Linked DNA regions of Homo sapiens. Each later gene encodes a partner of the first gene's protein in a complex. Each region holds a gene or a part of one and is shown on either strand. Other genes may lie near its edges. The genes, in order: AIFM1 and CHCHD4. A codon is read from its position in the direction of its gene.

Region 1 (8,142 bases):
CGTGGTGGTGCACGCCTGTAATCCCTGGTGCTCGGGAGGCTGAGGCATGAGAATCTCTTGAACTGAAGTGGCGGAGGTTGCAGTGAGCCAAGATCACGCTGCTGCACTCCAGCTTGGGTGACAGAGCAAGACTCTGTCTAAAAAAAAAAAAAAAAAAGTCTCTTAAAAGGCAAGCTTAGCAAGGAAAACTATTGGAAAAGATGGAAAAGAGATGAAAACCTTTTTTTTTTTTTTTTTTTTTTTTTTGAGATGGAGTTTCACTCTTTTTGCCCAGGCTGGAGTGCAGTGGCCCGATCTCATCTCACTGCAACCTCCGCCTCCTGGGTTCAAGCAATTCTCCCGCCTCAGCCTCTGGAGTAGCTAGGATTACAGGTGTGTGCCACCATGCCTGGCTAATTTTGTATGTTTAGTAGAGACAGGGTTTCACCATGTTGGCCAGGCTGGTCTCAAACCCCTGACCTCAGGTGATCCGCCTGCTTCGGCCTCCCAAAGTGCTGGGATTACAGGTGGGAGCCACCACGCCCAGCCGAAAGCTGTTTTTTAAATGAGGAAATTCTTCTAGTCTGTTTTGTTCCCCTTTTGAGTCTTTGCAGTTTCGAGTTGCTAAAGGTATATTTGCTTTCCTAAAGCACATACCCTAGCCATCACTTCCATTTCACATGATTCACTTCAATTTTCAGAGAGGACTGTTTTAATCCTTTAATAAGCCCCACAACTCTGGGTGGGCAATTTGTTCTGCTTTTTTCAAAAGCACCCCCTTATTCTTGAACATTGTATGATAATCCCCAATTGACCTCCTGGATTTTCTCCCTTTGTTGCTAACGGAAGGTGAAACTGAGCCTGATATTTTCCTGGTGATCACTAGGAAATTGATGGGAAGGGCAAAAGCCTACTGATGTATACTTTCTAAATGTTTTAGAAGTAACTAAATATTTAAGCTATGTCCTAGTACCAGTTCAGACCTGATGAATGAATGACATTGGTGAAATCATTCTCCTATTTTTCACTTATGAAATGAAAGGGATACTTGCTTTTCCTCTCCCATCAGGATGCTGTGAAGATTGTTAAGATTAGCGTAGGTCATATGTTTTGCTAGCTTTATGTGGAGGATTGAGACAAGTGCAAGGTGATTTTTTTTTAACAGTGGCAAAGAATCATCTGAGACTTCAAGAAGATTCATCCAGTCTGTTCTGTTGCTTTCAGCTTCAGAAGGAGAGGAAGTTCCTCAAGACAAGGCGCCAAGTCATGTTCCTTTCCTGCTAATTGGTGGAGGCACAGCTGCTTTTGCTGCAGCCAGATCCATCCGGGCTCGGGATCCTGGGGCCAGGGTAAGGTGCATGTTTTTTTGCTTGGCACAGAGGGTACAGTCTGCAAGCATTTAGCTAATGTGAATGCTTTGACATTTGCCCCTTAAATGACTTGGCTCTGATAAGCGTCATGATTTTTATGTCTGAAGGTACTGATTGTATCTGAAGATCCTGAGCTGCCGTACATGCGACCTCCTCTTTCAAAAGAACTGTGGTTTTCAGATGACCCAAATGTCACAAAGACACTGCGATTCAAACAGTGGAATGGAAAAGAGAGAAGGTGTGTTTGCTTATGTAAAATGAGCCTATCAACTTCAGCTAAGCACAGAGAATAGGTTAGGATTTTGCCACTGACTGTGTACAGTAATAGGAGGGATGGCTTGGCTGTCCACTAGAGTCTACTGTGGTCCACACTTGGTACAGCTTAGAGATAACAGTCTACAAAGGGCAAGAGTCCTGGATTCTGTTACCAGATCTACCAACAGTTGATGGTGTAATGTTGGCCTCTGAAATACTAATGCTCCTATTTCTGGAACCTTTATGTTAAGCTTCTTTAGGTGAAGATCAACTTGGCCTGTATTGTCACTTCTTTTTTTATTTTTATTTTTTGAGATGGAGTCTTGCTGCTCTGTCACCAGGCTGGAGTGCAGTGGCGCAATCTCAGCTCACTGCAACCTCCACCTCCCGGGTTCAAGCAATTCCCCTGCCTCAGCTTCTCAAGTAGCTGGGATTACAAGCACGTACCACCACACCCGGCTAATTTTTTGTATTTTATAGTAGAGATGGGGTTTTATCACATTGGCCAAGATGGTCTCGATCTCCTGACCTCATGATCCGCCTTCCTCGGCCTCCCAAATTGCTGGGATTACAGGCGTGAGCCACTGCCCCCAGCCATCACTTCTTTATACTTGCCTAGACATGTCCTACAAGAGCAGAAGAAAAGAAACTTTTTAACGGCACTCTCTTTGACAGCCTAGCAGGCATTTAGAATTTCAGGAGTAGAGTAGGAAGGCTGTAAGGAAGAGCCTGTGTTAGAATTTTTGCACGACAGACTTGGAGATACAGGTCCAGAAGCTTTTTCCTTTTGATGGACAACTTAGATCTCAATTCTAGTACCATGTTCTTTGGGTTCCAATTTTTTTTCTCATTAGTGACCCCTTTGATACCTGACCAAATTTTACAAACTTACCCTTTTCCCTCACCCCCACTAGTTCCATTTTCAAACAGGATGTATACTTTCAATTAAGTTAGTGGCTAACTTTATATGTATACATATGCATACACACACACACACACACACACACACACACACACACACACATATTTTGAGAGACAGGGTCTGGCTCTGTCACCCATGCTGGAGTGCAGTGGCCGAATCATAGCTCACTGCAGCCTCAAACTCCTGGGCTCAAGTGATCCTCCCACCTCAGCCTCCCGAGTAGCTAGGACTACAGGTGCGTACCACCACGTGCCTTTTATTAATTAAAAAAATTTTTTTCTAGAGACGAGATGTTGCTATGTTGCCCAATCTGGTCTCAAACTCCTGGCCTCAAGTGATCCTCCCAACTTGGGCTCCCAAAGCACTGGGGTTATAGACCTGAGCCACTGCACTCAGCCAATATTAATATATTAACTAATTAATATTAATATATCATAGTTGATAACTGCTTGAGGCAGAGTCTTCTCAGGAGCTATAATTAGTTGTTCCATTGAAGAGCACCATTCTGGACAACCCATTTGGGTGGATATGTGAATACCAGCTCTTTGGGTGCTCCACTTGTTCTTACTTTGAAATGAACCTAAATCTAGAGCAGGATCCTCAGCCTCAGCACTATTGACATTTGGAGCAGGATAACGCTTTGCTGGGGGTGGGGAGCTGTCCAGTGCATCATAGGATGTTTAGCAGCATCCCTGGCCATTACCCACTGGATATGAGTAGCATCCCTACCCAAGTTATTACAACCCAGATTGTCTCTGGACACTGGCAAACATCCCCTGGGAGCAAAATTGCCCCAAGTTGAGAACCACTGATCTGGATACCTGTATGTAAGCAAGTCATGACCATGATTTAATAGACTTGGAGACTTACTTTGGAAAACGTCCCTTAAAGTTTCTGATAATGGAAACAGTTTTATTAAAGCTACGGGGGAAGCTGATAACAGTTCCACATGCTTATAATATTCTCCCTCTCTTCTCCATACAGCATATATTTCCAGCCACCTTCTTTCTATGTCTCTGCTCAGGACCTGCCTCATATTGAGAATGGTGGTGTGGCTGTCCTCACTGGGAAGAAGGTGAGCTAGTAGACCGCTTCTTTTGTCAGGCTCTACGTACTTGCCCACCAGCCAGTATGGTGATGTGTGTTTCCATTACCATTTATGTCTGTCCTGCCATTGTAGTTCATCAAAGAAGGATCGAGCTGCTTTAGGTTTAATAATGCTGAGTGTGTCTTTCTGGGGAAAGCACTAGTATCAAAGCCTAGGTTAGCATGCTGACTCAACTTGACCCTAAAAGCTGTTATCTCTCCTATTTGCTCTTCTGCCCTTCCTCATCCTTCCTGTTTTCCCACACTAACTTCTCTCTGGGATTATCGATGAGAAAAGATTGACAAATATGTATTACTCATAGTAAAATAATTTGGGCATAACTCAGCACGGAATATATTGTTAGACTTTAAAAGGTGAGTGTCTGAGTAATAAGGTCAGTTATTAGCAGGTATTTGTGGAGTCCCAGGATGGTTTTGTTATATTTTATTGTTGTTAATGGCAGGTACTAGAGTGTGTGTGTAAACTAATGGCAGTGTTCCAATAGGGACGCATTCTCTGAAGGAGCAAAGCCCAGAGTAGATGAGATACACAGCATAAGTGGAAGGATTGTCCTTCGTTAGGAACATACTCACTTCTCCTGTAAGGGGACATTAGACAGAGAAGATGGATATAGGTTTGTTGATAAGCCGGTAATGAGACATTTAGTGTCCCCTATGTGTAAACAACATTCAGGCCCTGCCCTCTAGGGGCTAACTGTATTAGGCAGAAACATAAATACATAATCATAACACATAGGTGTGTAGTAAGAGAGATCTGCGCAGTATGTTGTGGGAAATACTGGGAAGGGTGCCCAGTAGAGTGATGACATCAGGAAAGGCTTTCTGGAGGAGAAGGTCTTACAGAATGGGCAATCTTATGGAATGAAGAGGCATTCACCAGACTAGAGAAGACTGAAGAGCATCCAAGTAAAAAAGAACAGCATAAGCAAAAGCACAAGGGCACAAAAAAGCATGTTTGGTGCCAGGAAATAGAAGCAGCTCGATACTGATAGAGCAGTTAGGTACAAGTTAGGAAGTGGCAAGAGATGAACCTGAGAAGTTATGCAAGGGGCCTGATTGTGGAGGGCTTTGCGTGAAAGAGCTTTTTCTGCACTGGGGAGCTGTTGCATTTTAGGCAATTGAATTTTAAATAATCACCATTGGCCGTGAGGAGGATGGATTTCAGTGAGACAAGACTAGAGAGAGACCATTTCAGAGATTATTGCAATAATCTAGGCAAGAGATGATGAGAGCCCAAATTAGAATAGTAGTGGTATGATGATGATGAAGAAGAAGAAGAAAGTAAGAGGTAAAATTTGTATAGTACCTATTCTAATCTTGTAAGCACAGTTCTTAAATGCTTTATGTGCACCATCTCATTTTATCCTCCCAATAATCTTATGAGGTAGGTATTATTTCCCTCTTACAGAGAAATAAGTTGAAATTTTTAAAAATAAATAAATTTTAAATAATTTGCCTAAACTCACATAGCTAGTAAGTGGTAGAGAGAGAATTTGAGCCCGGGTCTGTCTGAGCCACAGAATTGGAACCCAGCTATTCTGATTCCAGAGCCTAAGCTATTAATAACATCAGTGTACAGTGTACAGTACTTTTTTTTTTTGAGACAGATTCTCACTCTGTCGCCCAGGCTGGAGTACGGTGGCATGATCTCAGCTCGCTGCAACCTCTGCCTCCCAGGTTCAAGCGATTCTCCTGCCTCAGCCTCCCAAGTAGCTGCATGCGCCACCATGCCTGGCTATTTTTTTTTTTTGTCTTTTTAGTAGAGATGGGGTTTTACCATGTAGGCCAGGTTGGTCTCGAACTCCTGACCTCAGGTGATCCACCCACCTCGGCTTCCCAAAGTGCTGAGATTACAGGCATGAGCCATCGTGTCCAGCCAGTATTACTTCTTGATAGAAAGGTGATGAGAAGTAGGGAACACACTTGAGGCATGCTTAGGAGTCATGCTTGATGAGGCTTGGTGGTTGGTTAAAGGTAGAAGATGAAGGAGATGGAGGAGGCAAAGATGATTTTCTAATTTCTAGCCTGCATGTCTGAGTGGATGGCAGTGTACCCACAGCTGAGAAAGACATTACAAGAGGAAGAGCTAGTTTAAGGGGGAAGATAAAATTCAGTTTTGGACCATTAAGTATGAAGTGGAATATCTGCGTGAAGGTGTCTTCTGGGCAGTTGGACATATGACTGCCACGCCCAGGGGACTTGGGCTCAGATAGAGAGCTGAGAATCATCTGCATATGTGTAGAAGTTGAAACCATGAGAGTAGGTGAAGCCTCCCAGGGAGAACTGATCTGGTGAGAAGAGGAGGAAGGCAAGGATAGAGCCCTGGGGAACCCCAATTTTTAGGAAGCAGGCTTAAGAAGAACCCACAAAGGAGACTAGGAAAGAACTTAAAGAGCAGTATGAGGAAACCTGAGGACAGGAGCCAAGGTTGTAGGGAGTTTCAAGAAAAAGAATGTGATCCACAGTGTTACCGTGGCAGAGGAATCTGGGAAGAAAAGAACCGTAAAATGCACTGTGAGATTTGGCGGTTCAGATACCTTTGGGAGGCTGAGGCAGGTGGATCACTTGAGGTCTGGAGTTAGAGACCAGCCTGGCCAACATGGTGAAAACACATCTCTACTAAAAATACAAAAATTAGCCAGGTGTGGTGGCGCACACCTGTAATCCCAGCTACTCAGGAGGCTGAAGCACGAGAATCGCTTGAACCCAGGAGGCGGAGGTTGCAGTGAGCCAAGATTGCATCAGTGCACTCCAGCCTGGGTGACAGAACAAGACTCCATTTCAAAAAATTAATAAAATAAAACAGATACCATTGGGAAGTTAGAAAAGAGGGTAAAGCACTCTTTCAAAAGATTTAAATGAGAAAAGAGAGATGGCAATCGGATAAAAGCGTGAAGAGGACATAGAATCAAAGGTGGGACCTATTGGATGGGACAAGCATGTTAATAGGCTGGACGGGGGTGGTGGGGAGCCCTCATGCCTCATGGGAAGCTATGGAAGATCACATCTAATGGCTTCATTTGTTTTTGCAATACAATAGAACATAAGATGGTTATCTGAGAGCGAACACCGTGAGGGTTGAGTAGCGGGATTGGATTGAAGAGGGAGCTTACCAAGGACAAATCAAAGGAGGCTAAAGAAGCTGCTTATCCATCAGATCTCAGTTCATGTCATTGCCTCTAGAAAGCTTTACCCAACCCAACCTGACTAGATTGCACATGTCATATGTTCCCAGCGCTACCTGCACTGTTCTTACCACTTACATCACATTTGTCACTCTTGATTATTGTTAGTGCTTGTTAAATTGTCTTGGCCACTAAACTCTGAAAGCAGCAAGGATCACTGTCTCAACTTGATACATAGTAGGTGCTTAATTGAATGGTCTCAGCTAGTAAAGAGTGGTGCAAAGACTGGGGCCCTATTCTCTCTGACTCCAAAGCTCAAGCTCTTAACCATAAGAAGGAGTAGGGTGCAAGGGAATTAAAGGTACTGGCAAAAGAACAGTTTGGGTGTTCTACCATTGGCCCAAATTAGTTAGAATGGAGCAGCTAGTCAAATAAACAGAGAAAATTGAAAGCAAGCATAGGAGACAGACTGAGCGAAAGCTGAAGGGATGGAAAATTGTGACCAACAAGTAGAATAATTGAGGTAGGAGGAGAGGTTTAGGAGATAACAAGATGAGGAAAAGTATGAGCCAGGTTCCAAGGTCTTCAGTGAATCAGGAGGAGTAGCCAGGAGGTGGCTCAAAACAGTGATTCGTAGGAATATAGGACTCCTCTGATGTCCCTCAGAAGAGAATGAAAGTACAAGAATCTGGAAGCAGCAGACCAGTAACCTCAAGAAGCTTGCAGAATGCCAACACCTCCTCCTGGCCTTGTGATGTGGAGTGTGGGGGAACGAACAGCCTCTATGTGTAAGCTCTCCTTAAGAGAGAGCCAAGTTTCCGTGAAGGCTACAAGTTGGAGAAAGCATTCTGTAAAAATGTTGTAGATGTAGGAGACTTATTAATAAAGTAATAATAAGTAATTCCAAACAGCCATATAAGAAAGGCTGTTCCGATTCTCCTTTTCCACACATGGGTCAGGGCTTTGGGACTGTCATGACTTGCTCTAATGTTGCCTGCCTTCTCATTGCCAATTTCCAACATATGACTGCCTAAAAAAACTGGGTACCAGAAACTGTGGTTCCCATGATTACTTGGATATGGTTTCTTAAGGATCGCTTTAGGTCAAGAACTCATTCTTCTTATTGGGCTGACAACTTTTTTTGTTTTTGTTTTTGTTTGTTTTTGTTGTTGTGGTTTTGGGGTTTTTTTGTTTTGTTTTGTTTTTGAGACAGAATCTTGCTCTGTTGCCCAGGCTGGAGTGCAGTGGCATGATCTCGGCTCACTGCAACCTCTGCCTCCCAGGTTCAAGCGATTCTCCTGCCTCAGCCTCCCCAGTAGCTGGGACCACAGGCATATGCCGCCACACCTGGCCAATTTTTGTATTTTTAGTAGAGACGGGGTTT
Region 2 (11,613 bases), on another chromosome or scaffold:
CCCACCCACTGCTGTCAGATGTATCTTGCATGGACTTTACACCCCTCACTAGCCCCTCCCAGAGCATTCCATCCCAACCATCTTACTGGCACAGCCCAGACCATTGCTGAACAAGGCCTGCTCTCTAGCCACACCCAAGTGTTATGCCCGCCTCACCACTGGCATGCCGTGGAGCTAACCTCCCTCTGCTGAAATCCTGAGAAGCCTGAACAAATGCCGCTGCCTCTGGAAAGCCTGTCCTGATTGTCCTCCCACCCATGGCAAACCATTAACAAAATGCTTCCCCGGCCCCGTGTGTGCAAATCCCCTTAGACGCTTAGTGCAGGCCTTATATTTGTGACTTGTTTGCGGGGAGCTTGTCTGGGGTCAGGGGAGACAAGTCTCTGTGTTCCTGGTGCCCAGCACAGGGCTTGGTCTCAAACCCATGTCCCACATTTTCAACCCACGAGGCAGGATTAACTCAATCCTGTTATTCAGATGAAGAAACTGAGGCTGGAGACCTGCCAGTGTAGACAAAGCTGCACTCAGGCCTTGGGCCTGGCTCTCACCTGGGGTTTTTGTGGCCAATCTCTCGGTCGAAGTTTTTGCTGTTGATGATTTCTGACCTCCATTCAGTGTCTGCTCAGGGAGAGGAATCAACTCAGAGCCCGGGTAGGAGTGGCACGCGGCTGAGACCCACCAGCCCAGCTCCTCCTATCTCACAGCCAAAGGGGTGGGTCAGGGAGCCTCAATGGATGGGTGGGAAAGCAGGGCTCTGAAGACTTGCACCCAGGGATCCTGATGCCTGGTGCTGAATCCTTCCCATGGCCCCACCAACAGCCCTGCTGTCCAGCCACCACTGTGGGCCCCCACCATGGGCAGAGACCACGTAAGGGGCCCAGCACTCACTGTAGGAATACCTCGTCTCCTTCTTCACCTGCCCATCCTCGGTGTACTCCCTGCAGGGAAAGCAAAGCAGCCACGGGGGTTAGCCTCGTCGCCCCAGGCAGTCTAATCTCTAAGCATCTGAGCAGGAAGCAACCTCAGGGCTACCAGATCAGACTCCCCAGATACGGCAGATGCCTTCTCTACACCAGCCCCAAGACAGGGCACTCACTCCTGACAGACAGCCAGCTCCTGCCCTCCAAGGCGCTACCTGGAGGAAAGCGCTCTCCCATCCTGAGCTGAAATCTGCCCGCACTGGCCTTACACCAAGGGGCCCAGCCCTGCCCTTTGGGCTCAGAGATCTGGCTGCATCCTCTGCTCCAGGACAGCCCTGCGGGGGGCCTCTTGAAGCTGCCCTTCTCCTGCTCCTCCCACCACCTCCCCACCTGTCGGTCACAGTCCATATGATTCAGGTGGGGCTGAACCCACCCCCAGCTCCAGGTGACCCCAGCCCTGATCAATGAGAACCTGCCCTGGGACTCCTGTCAGAAACGATAAGCTGTAAGTAGAGCAAAGATGGGACCAACACAGCTGATGGGAAGGCTGAACACAGAGAGATGCAGTGGGGTCTCGGGGTTGACATGCTGATCCTAATGACAGTGTTTCAGGCCTGCTCCAAGTCATGCTTCAAGCTTGTGCATCTCTGGAACTTCCCAGATGTGGGAGCAACTCAATCCCCCTTTCCTCCTGGAGCCACTCTTCACTGGATTTTTGCCACTTCCAAATCACTGGCTATTAATTTGGGGATCATTTCACACTTTTCTGATAGGAAGATGTTATACTTGAGTTTCAAAGGTATCAAAATGAAAGACATCTGCATGTTATCCTGACACCTACACTTCACTCCTCCTTTACCCCAACAGAGTTTTCACCCCAACAGCTCACCTGGACTCCTCAGTTTCTACCCATTGGTACATCTCCACGTGCCTCCGCAGTTTCACAGCCGGAAGATGGACCCCATAGTTTGGATCAGACAAAAGCTTCAAACAGAATCAAAGAAACCAAAAAAATAAAGGATAACATTCACGTCAGCCCAGAAAGCCTGGCTCAGGGGAAGCTGGACTGGAAGAGGAAGAAATAGAGAAGGGGACAAGGGTGGAGAGCCCTACACTGCTTTGCAGGGGAGAATCGAGGACACTCCCTGTCCCAGGTTCTTTACACACAGTGCCTGTGACTGTGACCCTCACAGTACAGGCCTGGGCTGCATGGCCCAATGGCATGGTGCCAACAGCGTACAGGGTGTTCAAATAACAGGAAAGCTCTGGTGCCCAGGGTAGTTTTGTGGCCTTGCACTGGACACACATGGTCATCAGAGTCATGAGAGCACCTCCCTGAGTGCCAGCCACTGTACCAAGGCGTTAGTTACCTAATCTCACCAAATCCTCAAGGCTGGCCACAAGCTTGTAACCATTACCGTCCCCATTTTATACACGAAGACACTGAGACTCAGGATAGACAAGTCCACACAGCTGCTGAGTGGTAAAGTCGGGAATCACTCCCATGTGTGACCATCTCCAAGGCCCATGCTTTCAAATCCTCAGCCAGACAACATCCAGGATGAGCCCCGAGCCACTGGCAGGTCAGCATCCCCTGCCAAACCTACCTTGGATGTCCGTAAGGCGCCAATGATGTGCACCAGCCTTCCTTCATTCTCCGGAGCCACACTGTGGATGCTGTCGGGAGACACCACAAGCGAGAGCCCCTCAGCCAATGAGGTTGCCGTCTTCAATGCGCGGCCCTGGGAGCAAAGGGGAGTGGGGATTTCAACAGCTCAGGGGTGGCTCAGCATGACTGTGCTTGTTGCAAAGTATTAGGGTAGGATGGGGCCTCCGGGAGCGCTGAGACCCATCTCCCCACCGTACAGTTGGAAAACTGAGGTCTAGCAAGTGGAGAGTAAGGACTGGAACCCAGATTCCTGCTTTCCCAGGGAGACTTCTTCCTACTGCCCCATTGGTTCCCACTAGCCCCCACCAATCTTAGCACTGCCCCAGTGGTGGGAACAGCTGATGTTTCTGCCTGCCTGTCCCTTTCTCCCCATTTTTCTCTGCCTTCTTTTTTTTAATTTTATTTTTATGTTTAAGTTTTTTGTAGAAATGGGGTCTTGCTATGTTGCCCAGGCTGCTTTCGAACTTCTGACCTCAAGCGATCCTGCCTCCTTGGCCTCCCAAAGTGCTGGGGTTACAGGCTTGAGCCTCCATGCCTGGCTCTCCTCTCTCCTACTCAGCCCATGTGGTTTACCTGAGTCTATCTGAACCCTGGTCAGATTATGGGACCCAGACCTTGCCAGTCAGAACATGTGAGTGCGCCCTGGACACGGAGACTGATTCAGAGGACGGAGAGCCAAGCCAGGACACTGAGAGATGGCCCTGTAACTGCTGCTAAATTGATTTAGAAATATACTGTTGCATCATGAGGCCCTATTAAAAAAAAGGAGAAAAAGAAAGAGAGAGGGAGAGAAAGAAAGAAACAAACAAACAAGAAAGAGAGAAAGAGAGAGACAAAGGAAGGAAGGAAGAAAGGAACAAAGGAAGGGAGGGAGGGAGGGAGGGGAAAGAAAGGAAAAGAAAGAAAGGAAGAGAAACAGATGGTTTTTCTCTTCCCTGGGCTAAGTGGTTGGATGTAGGCCAGTTGCTGGGGCCACATTTGCCATCACAGATGAAGTGCCTGCCCAAGAAAAACACCATAATAGAGAAAAACAGGCAAAAGATGAAGAAATGGAGATTCCTGGTGACCCAGCATGAACACCTGGATCCAACTACGCCTGAGGCAGGTGCTAACCCCTGGATATTCAGGTGTGTGAACTGATCTACTCCCCTTCCTGCTCACATCAGCTGTGGGATGGATCACAATGGAAAGAACTGTGATTAACTCAGTATCCTCCTTTCTCTTTTTAAAATCTAGGCCCTTGATTACCAAATCCAGCCTCCGGGTTCATCGCCTTTGCTCTCTGACATGGTGGGGACTCTCACTCTGCACAGGAAGACCCCAGACATTTTACCTCATTGGTGAAAATTAGGTAGAAGGAGAGCAGGAAGGCCATGAGCCCCACAAACATCCCACCCGAGGTCTCGCTCAGCCGTTCCAGGAAGCCTGGCTGGGAGCTGGTTTTAACTTTGACATGTTCTCTCCGGGTACTGGTACTGGAATACTGAAGAAAAAGAAACAGTAACAGAATGAAAACTAGTTTTTAAAAATAAATTAAATTTGCTATTTATTTATACTCAATTTTTTTTTTTTTTTTTTTTTTTTTTTAGTTTTAACTGTATGTGGTAAAAACACACAGATATTCAATGTACAGTTTGGCAGGTTTCCACAAACGTATATTCCATCTGACCAACATCTAAAGCAAGGTACAAAATATTTCCATCACCCCAAAAAGTTTCTTTGTGCCCCTTTCCTGCCAATTCTCCCCCTCTCCACCAACCAGAGGTAACTGGTGGGGATGGGGAGAATCTGAATTTGAATTTCTCCTACCGTAGATTAGTTTGTTTCTTCTACAACTTGAGAAAAATGGAATCAGGGCACCAACTCCTTTCTGCCCAGCTTCTTGGACTCAGAGCACTGCTTTTGCAATTCATTCATGTTGTGGTGTTTATCAGGAATTTGTTCCTTTTCATGGCTGAGTAGTATTCCATTTATGACTATACCACAGTGTGCTGAATCATTCGTCAGTGGATGGGTATCTTGACAGCTTCCAGGTTTTGGCTGTTATGAATAATGCTGCTGTGAATATTCATACATGAACCTTTATGCAGACATGTGCTTTCATTTCCCGTAGGAATATACCTAGGAGTACAACTGCTGGCTCGTGAAGAAGATGTACGTTTAACTTTTTATGAAACTGCCAAGCTATTTTACAAAGAGGTTATTAGAGATGTATTTTTAATTAAATTCAGCAAACAGTGGCTGAGCTTTCTGAGGGCAGTGCTAGCCCTTGTGGGGTCAGAAGTAGACAGTCTTAGGGCAGTGAGGTCACAACCATAAACAATACTAGAAGGTCACACAGAGGGTCCTGTGATGGGGGTGGACTTGGTGCTCAAGGAGTGACCCCTTCCACCTGGGGTATCAAGGAGGCTCCCTTGAGTGGAATCTTAGAGGCAGATCTTAGGGGAAGAGCATCCCTAAAGGGAGAACCGTATCAGCAGTGATGAGGAAGTAGGAAGTGGTTCTGGGGGAGCAGCTGCCTGTCTGCTTTGGCTGGGTGGGAGCAGTGGAGGAAGAAAGGGCTTGGAGGTAGGCATTTCTGGGCAGGTTCACAGTGGGCCTCAAACTCAAGGGTGAGTGGATCAGGCTTTGGTCAATAACAGAGGCATGATTTGGGGTGCATCCACTGCTGATCAAAAGTGTCATCGTCTAGGGCAGGATTCTGGAGCCAGAAGAACTGGGTTTGCATTTATGCTCTGCCACATACCAGCTACGGGGTCTTGGGCAAGCAACTTCACCACTTTGTGCCTTCCATTTCCTCTGTGCATAGGGTTGTGGTGAGAACCAAAGAACACAGTTATTGGGTAGCTCAGGGCCTAGGGCGTGGTAAGCACTGGACACGTGTTAGCTAGTAGAAATGTTACCAGATTTCCCTACAACTGATACTGGGCTGGCACCAGGCTGGGGGTGAGCTGACAAAAGTCACAAAGATGTAAAGTGGGGCCCAGCTAAGACAGGCCCCATCCTGGTATTGGGGGCCAGAGGAGTGATTTGACTCAGAATCTCTGCTTGAACAAAGCTGATGTCGCATTCTGATTGTCTTTGAGTACCACCAGCCAAGGCCTCCAGTGACCAGATGTCCATGAATCCAGAAGTCGTCTTGACTTTCCATGCCATTTGGAAACATTAGGTGAGTGAATCACCACATAGGGGCAGGTGACCATCACAATGATGACAATGGCAAACACACCGGGTCTATCACAGGCCAGCCCACAGGCAAGCCCAAAGAGCGGGATGTCATAACGACCCCATTTCACCGATAAGAAAATCGGGCTCAGGGTTACGTCATCTTCCCAGATCACACAGCTTCTAAGAGGAAGAGTTAGGATTCAAATCCGGGCAGACTGGAGGCTACTCTCCCATTACTCATTCCAGTCTGTGCTCCCCATCTCTTGGGCTACAATGTGAGCTGAATGTTGGGAGCCAGCTGCAGGCAGCAATAGGAAAATAAGGCGTGTCTTCCTCTTGGGCCTCCCCTCAGCCAGCATCAAGATAAGGGGCTCAAAGACGGCCTTGGAGGGAAGGAAGAGAGGTACAGGAGGGTGCCCCTCAGGCTAGGGGAGGGGTGAGGTGGGCAGTGACATGACAAACCCAGCCCACATTCTGAACCAAAATTCCCAGTAAACATGGAGGATCATAAAGGATCTATATATCCACACATATTTATATATACATATAGTATGTATTACATGTATACACACATTATATAAACACACACACACACGCACACACAGACGGACATCCCCAGTGACACATCCCCTCCCAGTCCTAGCACTCAGGACTTAGAAGAAATGAGCAATGAGTGGTGGGAACAGAGGCTGACACATAGGCCCTGGAAATGGACAGAACTGGATTTGATGCCTAGGTTCACCAATCGCTTGCTGTGTAAGCCTGGGTAAATTGCTCTACCTCTCTGATTCTGTTTACTCACTTATAAAGTGGAGAGGGGAATAGTACCTTCACCACAGGTACTGCTGCTGCTGTACTGATTGAGAATTTTGTTGCCTCCCTGCTCCATCCCGCTATCTTCTTCCTCACCCAGCCTAGTGGCTGCTGTAAATGTGTACTCAGCTACTGGATGAATCAAAAAATGCTTGGCAGCAGAGAATACTCAAATGCATGTATATTCCTTGGTGAGGGGTCAGGTCTCAATGTACCCAAGATGATCTCTATCCACTGGGACCATTTGTGCTACCCTGCAAGGACAGGCTTGTTTTCAAGTATTAAGTACCTACCACACATCAGGCACTGTGCTAAGCAGTCTCCCTTAAATATCACAGTAACTGATCCATGAGGCTACATAAACCTGGAGAGATGAAAGCCACACAGCTACTGGGTGGAAGAATCTGGATTGCCCCCAGGTCTCCCTAACTCCAAAGCCTGCCCTTTTCAGCATATTTCCGTGTCACAGCATGCCAAGCCGGCCACGAGAGCTTGGGCAAGTGCCTTCCCCTGCTAGGGAAGTTCCCCATCTGTAAAATATGGTGGTGGTAGTGATGGGAGCAGACAAAGAGTCCACATACTACAGACAGGCTGGTCTCCTGACTGCCCTCTCGCCTGGCCGAGCCTGAGTCTCTCCGAATACCTCTGAGGCTTTTCTAGGTACAACATTCAAGGCTTCTAACCCTCCTGTGGGCCCGAAATGTCCTGGGAGTGTGGATGATACTAACCCGAGACAAAGTGTACTAGGGCTGTGGGTGATGCACACCCTGGCCTCTCAAGGGGTGTGGGAGGCAGAGAGGACGCTTGGGGACAGAGGCGGTGTCTGGAAATAGGGTGTGACAGGCAAGGGGAGAGCTGCTAGGACACTCTACCAAAGCAGGAGGGAGGGTGTGTCTGGGGCTGGCTGGGCTCCTAAGCGGGCCCTAGAAGCACTTTCACAGAGGAGGGGAGAGGTGAGTCACCAGCTTCTCCCACACCCAGCGCCCTGGTAGGAGGCGCTGCTTGTTGAATGAATGTTGGGCTTAAATAGTTTCCCGAGAAAGGCTAGTTGCAGGGAGAAGAGGCCTTGAGGGAACAGCCCTCAGCCAGGCCTCCTCCAACCAAATCCTTGCTAGGGGGAGGAGGGGCCCCGACAGTAGAGAAATGCTCCCTCTCCCCCAACTCCTTCGCTCCCAGCCCAGCCTAAGCTTTTTGGAGCATCACAGACTCGGTTTACAGAGACTCCCTAGGGCGGAGAGCTCTCTGCCCGCCTGGACAGCCCTGTCTGTCCATTGCTGGACAGCTCCACTTGGGCTGGATCGCCTTCCTCCCTCCCAAGGGACTGGCGCCCTCTCTGAGGTCGCGTCCAGCTCTCATAATGCGCAAGTTTCAGGGCCCCAAGGTACAGGAGGGAACTGGGAATGCAAGGAGGGGCCGCGGAGAGGCGTACAAGCAGATCCCAGTACGGGAGCAACACCTCCGAGTCCGCCTCCGCACGAACGCCGAGGACGAGGCGAGCCAAGGAACACGGACAAAAGAAGCCTGGACAGGCCGCGAGATGAGCAGAGGGATGAGCTGGCGAAGGCACAGACACGGCGAGCAGAGGGAGATGCGGGCCTAGCCGCACGGAGGAGCTCCAGGCGGCGAAATGGACCTAGAGGACCCCGGGGAAAAGCCCCAGGGCGACGGGGAAGCCTGGGTGTGGCCCGGCTGGCCCGGGGATACTCACATTCGCGGCCATGGTGGGACCCGGCTCGCTGCCGCCGCCTCGCGCTGTTCAGCTAGGAAGTGGGCTGACGACTGGAGCGTGGTGTCCAGCGGCCTCTTGCCAGCCCCAGCTTCGAAAATCCGCGTGGACTCCAGGGCCAAGCGGGACTTACTGCAGTTACCTCCCCCTGTGCCCAGTGTTTCTGCGCATGCGCGCGGCGAGACGTCCTGGAAACTATACGGTCCGGGACATTGCAGTACCTCATTGATGCGCCTGCGCACTGCAAAGCTTTCGGGGAAATGTAGTTTCTACTGCCTGGAGAGCTGTCGAGGAGCGCGCGACCTGCTGGGAAATGTAGTTTCCGGCTGAGGTTGGCCTGGCCGCGGTTGCGAGGGCGCCGAGGCAGGCGCGCGGCGGGCAGGCCTGGGAGGGGGCGGGTCCGCGCGGGCTTCGGAGGAGCCCGCCCTGCCAGAGGAGAGGGAGGTCACGGCGTAAAGGTGCAGCTGCCGCCACCGCCGCTTCTGCAAGGTCTCAGGGACGGGCTGCAGCCATGTCCTATTGCCGGCAGGAAGGTAGGGAGGGCGGGCTGCCACGGAGACCGGCCTACGAGGGCCTGCGGGAGACACGCGGGCCCCGGCGCCCCGCGACCACGCCGGGCGCGGGCCACCTGAGGCGCGGCCCAGGTGCCCACCCTGGGACACTCGGAGGCGGGCCGGCTGGGGGGTCGCTACTCCTGTTTTGCGGATGAGAAAACCGAAGCTCTGGGGGGAACGGGGCTGGTCCAAGGTCACAGTGAAGCCCGAACCCTGACCTCAGAGGGGCCTGTGCGTAGGAAGTCGTAAACTAGGTCCGGTTGGGGCACGGGAAGTGCCGAGCACGTTGCGTGTGGCTCGAAACTGGGAATGTATGGTGGTTAATTATCACTACCGCTCCTGCCATACCCCACGTGTTTACATTTTGCACGCGCCTTTAAAAGGCGCGTCCCGAAAAGTTGCCACTCGGGGTAGCGTGTGCTGTGCTGGAGTGCTAGGAGTTCCACTAACGGGAATGTTTTTGAGCCCCCTGCTACCTGTCAGGCACTGTTCAAGGAAACTTGCCTGGCTTGTCTCACAGATCTCGCTGCGACCTTTGTAAGTCAGGCTCTGTTGTTGGTCACATTTTACTGAAGAGTAAAGTTAGACACAGGAGACATGGCTAAAGCCACTCAGCCAGCAAATCGTGGAGCTGGGGTTTGAGCCTGGGCATTGTGACCCCAGAAGAGCCTTATCCAATCTAGTGCCCAGTGGATTGCAGGGAGAACCCTGCCTACCTCCCACCCCAAAGTTGAGCTCCGACCACCTACTGCTTCCTTGATGTTACTCTACCCAAGAGCTCAGAAGTACCCGAGCCACAGGTCGGAGGGCCTCCCCACACACTGCCACAAACTGGCTCCTTGGCCCTGAGCTCCCACCTAACCCCTCCAGGCCCTGGTATCCAGTGTTGTAAAATGAGATGTTGGGCTTCATTGATACGGCAAATACTCATGAAGCACCTTCTCTGCGCCAGAGAAGGGGGATGGATGGTTATAAAACTACAGAGAGAGTTGGAAGTCCCCCAGAAATTCTTTGGTGAATACTCCAGCTCCGTCAGTTAATTCAAGCAATCTGAAGCCCAGAGAAGGAGGTGGCCTACCTGTAGTTACACATCCAGTTAGGAGACTAGCTCAGCCTAAAATTCTGAGCCTTTTCCCTGGTGGCGCTGTCTGCTTCTAGAACCTCTCCTCCTCTGGGTCGTAAAGCCATAAGACTCACTCTTTAATGAGTACTATTATATTTCCGCTGATTACTACTTAATGTGTGCCATAAGCAAAAGTCCTCTGCCCTCACCACTCTTGTTTTTAATTTCGAGTCTTTCTCTAATTTACTTCATTTAGCAAATAATTTTTGAGCCTTTGGGTATAATGAGGCTGTGCTGATAAACAAGACCCTCCTCTTTGAGGATTTACAGGAGGCAGTTTTCTCTGGAAAGGGGAGGCTAGGTCCATCTGCCTCCAAAACATGGAGCCCTATCTTTTCCTGCTTCAAAGATCTCTCTTAGTTCGGAGAGGAGTGAGAATTGAAAGCACTCACTTATAGGCCTTCCTTAGTATTTATCTTGTGCATACCACTGTCCCCGTAAGAAGTCCCTAACTTCCCCCCCTCCGCCCCCCACTGATCCTTTATGCTTCCCATAGGATTTTTAAAAAATGATCCCAAACTGCTTACTGTATCAGAGCTTATGTGATCTGGCCCTGTCTGCCTTTCCAGCCTGGTCTCTTCCCACCCTTTTGCTGCCCAGCCTCTAGCCTCTTGGCTATTCCCTTGGTTTGGTATATCCTGCCTTCAGCTCTTCCGTGGCTGACTCCTCATCCTTTAACATTTAGCTCCAATATCACCTCCTGACCCTTTGTGTCTTTCACATCCTGAACTGTCTGAAATGACCTTTTTTATTTTTTGCCATCTTACTTCCTGCCTGTCTTCTCGCACTAAGCTGAGAGCATCAGATGGGCTGTGGAATCCCCAGCATCTAGCACAGGGCTTGGTGTACAATGGGTGCCCACATCTTTATTGAATCATGCATTTACCTGCCCTCTGTTCTGAGTGAATCACTTGCCTGTACAAGTTTATTTCAGGGGTCCACCTGCTACCCAGCCTTCAGGTTAAACTCGTTGGTTTGGCATTCAAGGGCTCTCAGCCTCGCACCTGGGCCTTGGGCTAGCCACACTTCTCCTGTGTCAGCACCATAGTGTTTCTTTCTTAGTTTCCTCTTTCTAATGCAGAGCCTGCCAACTCCTGTTCAGTCAACAATTATAGAGCACACGTGATGTGCCAGCCATTGGGCATATAGTGGTGAGCAAGGTGACACATTCTCTGCCCTCCTGGCATGGTGGAACAGATTGCCATTAAAACATCACCAGACAAATGCATGATTACAGACTGTCATAGGTGACATGAAGGAAAAGCCCAGCATGCTATGATCGTTTAGTGAAAGGCTCTATGGGGTCTGAGAAGGCTTCCTGAGGCTTCAGACATCCTTTTAAATGCCACTTTCTTAAGAAAACCTTTTGCAATCCTAAACACGTGTGAGCGAACACTACTTAAAACCCTCCTTTTGCCCTCCAGGCTTTGCCCAGGATGGTTCCTTCTGGAATGTCTATTCCCCTCCTTCCCTCCCTGAAGCTCTTTGTCAGGGACAAAGGTAGGATCCCTCCCCTTCCGTCTTCTCCACTGGATGCCTGTGTCGTATTCATCTGTGACCACCAGGTACTACCACAGAGCTGGAGCTGAGGAAGGTTTGTTGAGCTAAACTTCTAACACTTGCATTCTTCTTAACACTCT

What was found.
Region 2: the proteins of AIFM1 (region 1) and CHCHD4 are in contact, whole or in part, in a cryo-EM structure (PDB 9GQZ), measured with the Homo sapiens proteins. Residues at the interface, in NP_004199.1 of Homo sapiens: Pro345, Tyr347, Ser500, Ser501, Leu502, Pro503, Thr504, Val505, Gly506, Val507, Phe508, Ala509, Lys510, Glu558, Asp559, Tyr560, Asn602, Ala605, Lys606, Phe608, Asn609, Ile610, His611; in NP_001091972.1 of Homo sapiens: Arg5 (codon at 8,820), Glu7 (codon at 8,826), Lys9, Asp10, Arg11, Ile12, Ile13, Phe14, Val15, Thr16, Lys17, His20, Thr22, Pro23.

Annotation. Positions count from the first base shown.
Region 1 is NC_000023.11:130,140,938-130,149,079, reverse strand, and holds part of AIFM1 (apoptosis-inducing factor 1, mitochondrial isoform AIF precursor), read left to right. Parts: intron 1-1,203; coding exon 1,204-1,328; intron 1,329-1,456; coding exon 1,457-1,587; intron 1,588-3,510; coding exon 3,511-3,601; intron 3,602-8,142. UniProt on the Homo sapiens protein: Functions both as NADH oxidoreductase and as regulator of apoptosis.
Region 2 is NC_000003.12:14,121,871-14,133,483, reverse strand, and holds the start of CHCHD4 (mitochondrial intermembrane space import and assembly protein 40), read left to right. Parts: upstream 1-8,613; 5' UTR 8,614-8,807; coding exon 8,808-8,829; intron 8,830-11,397; exon of another isoform or gene 11,398-11,506; coding exon of another isoform or gene 11,507-11,567; intron 11,568-11,613. Other genes in the region: TMEM43 (transmembrane protein 43), read right to left, coding at 549-621, 889-938, 1,810-1,904, 2,528-2,662, 3,923-4,072, 8,279-8,290.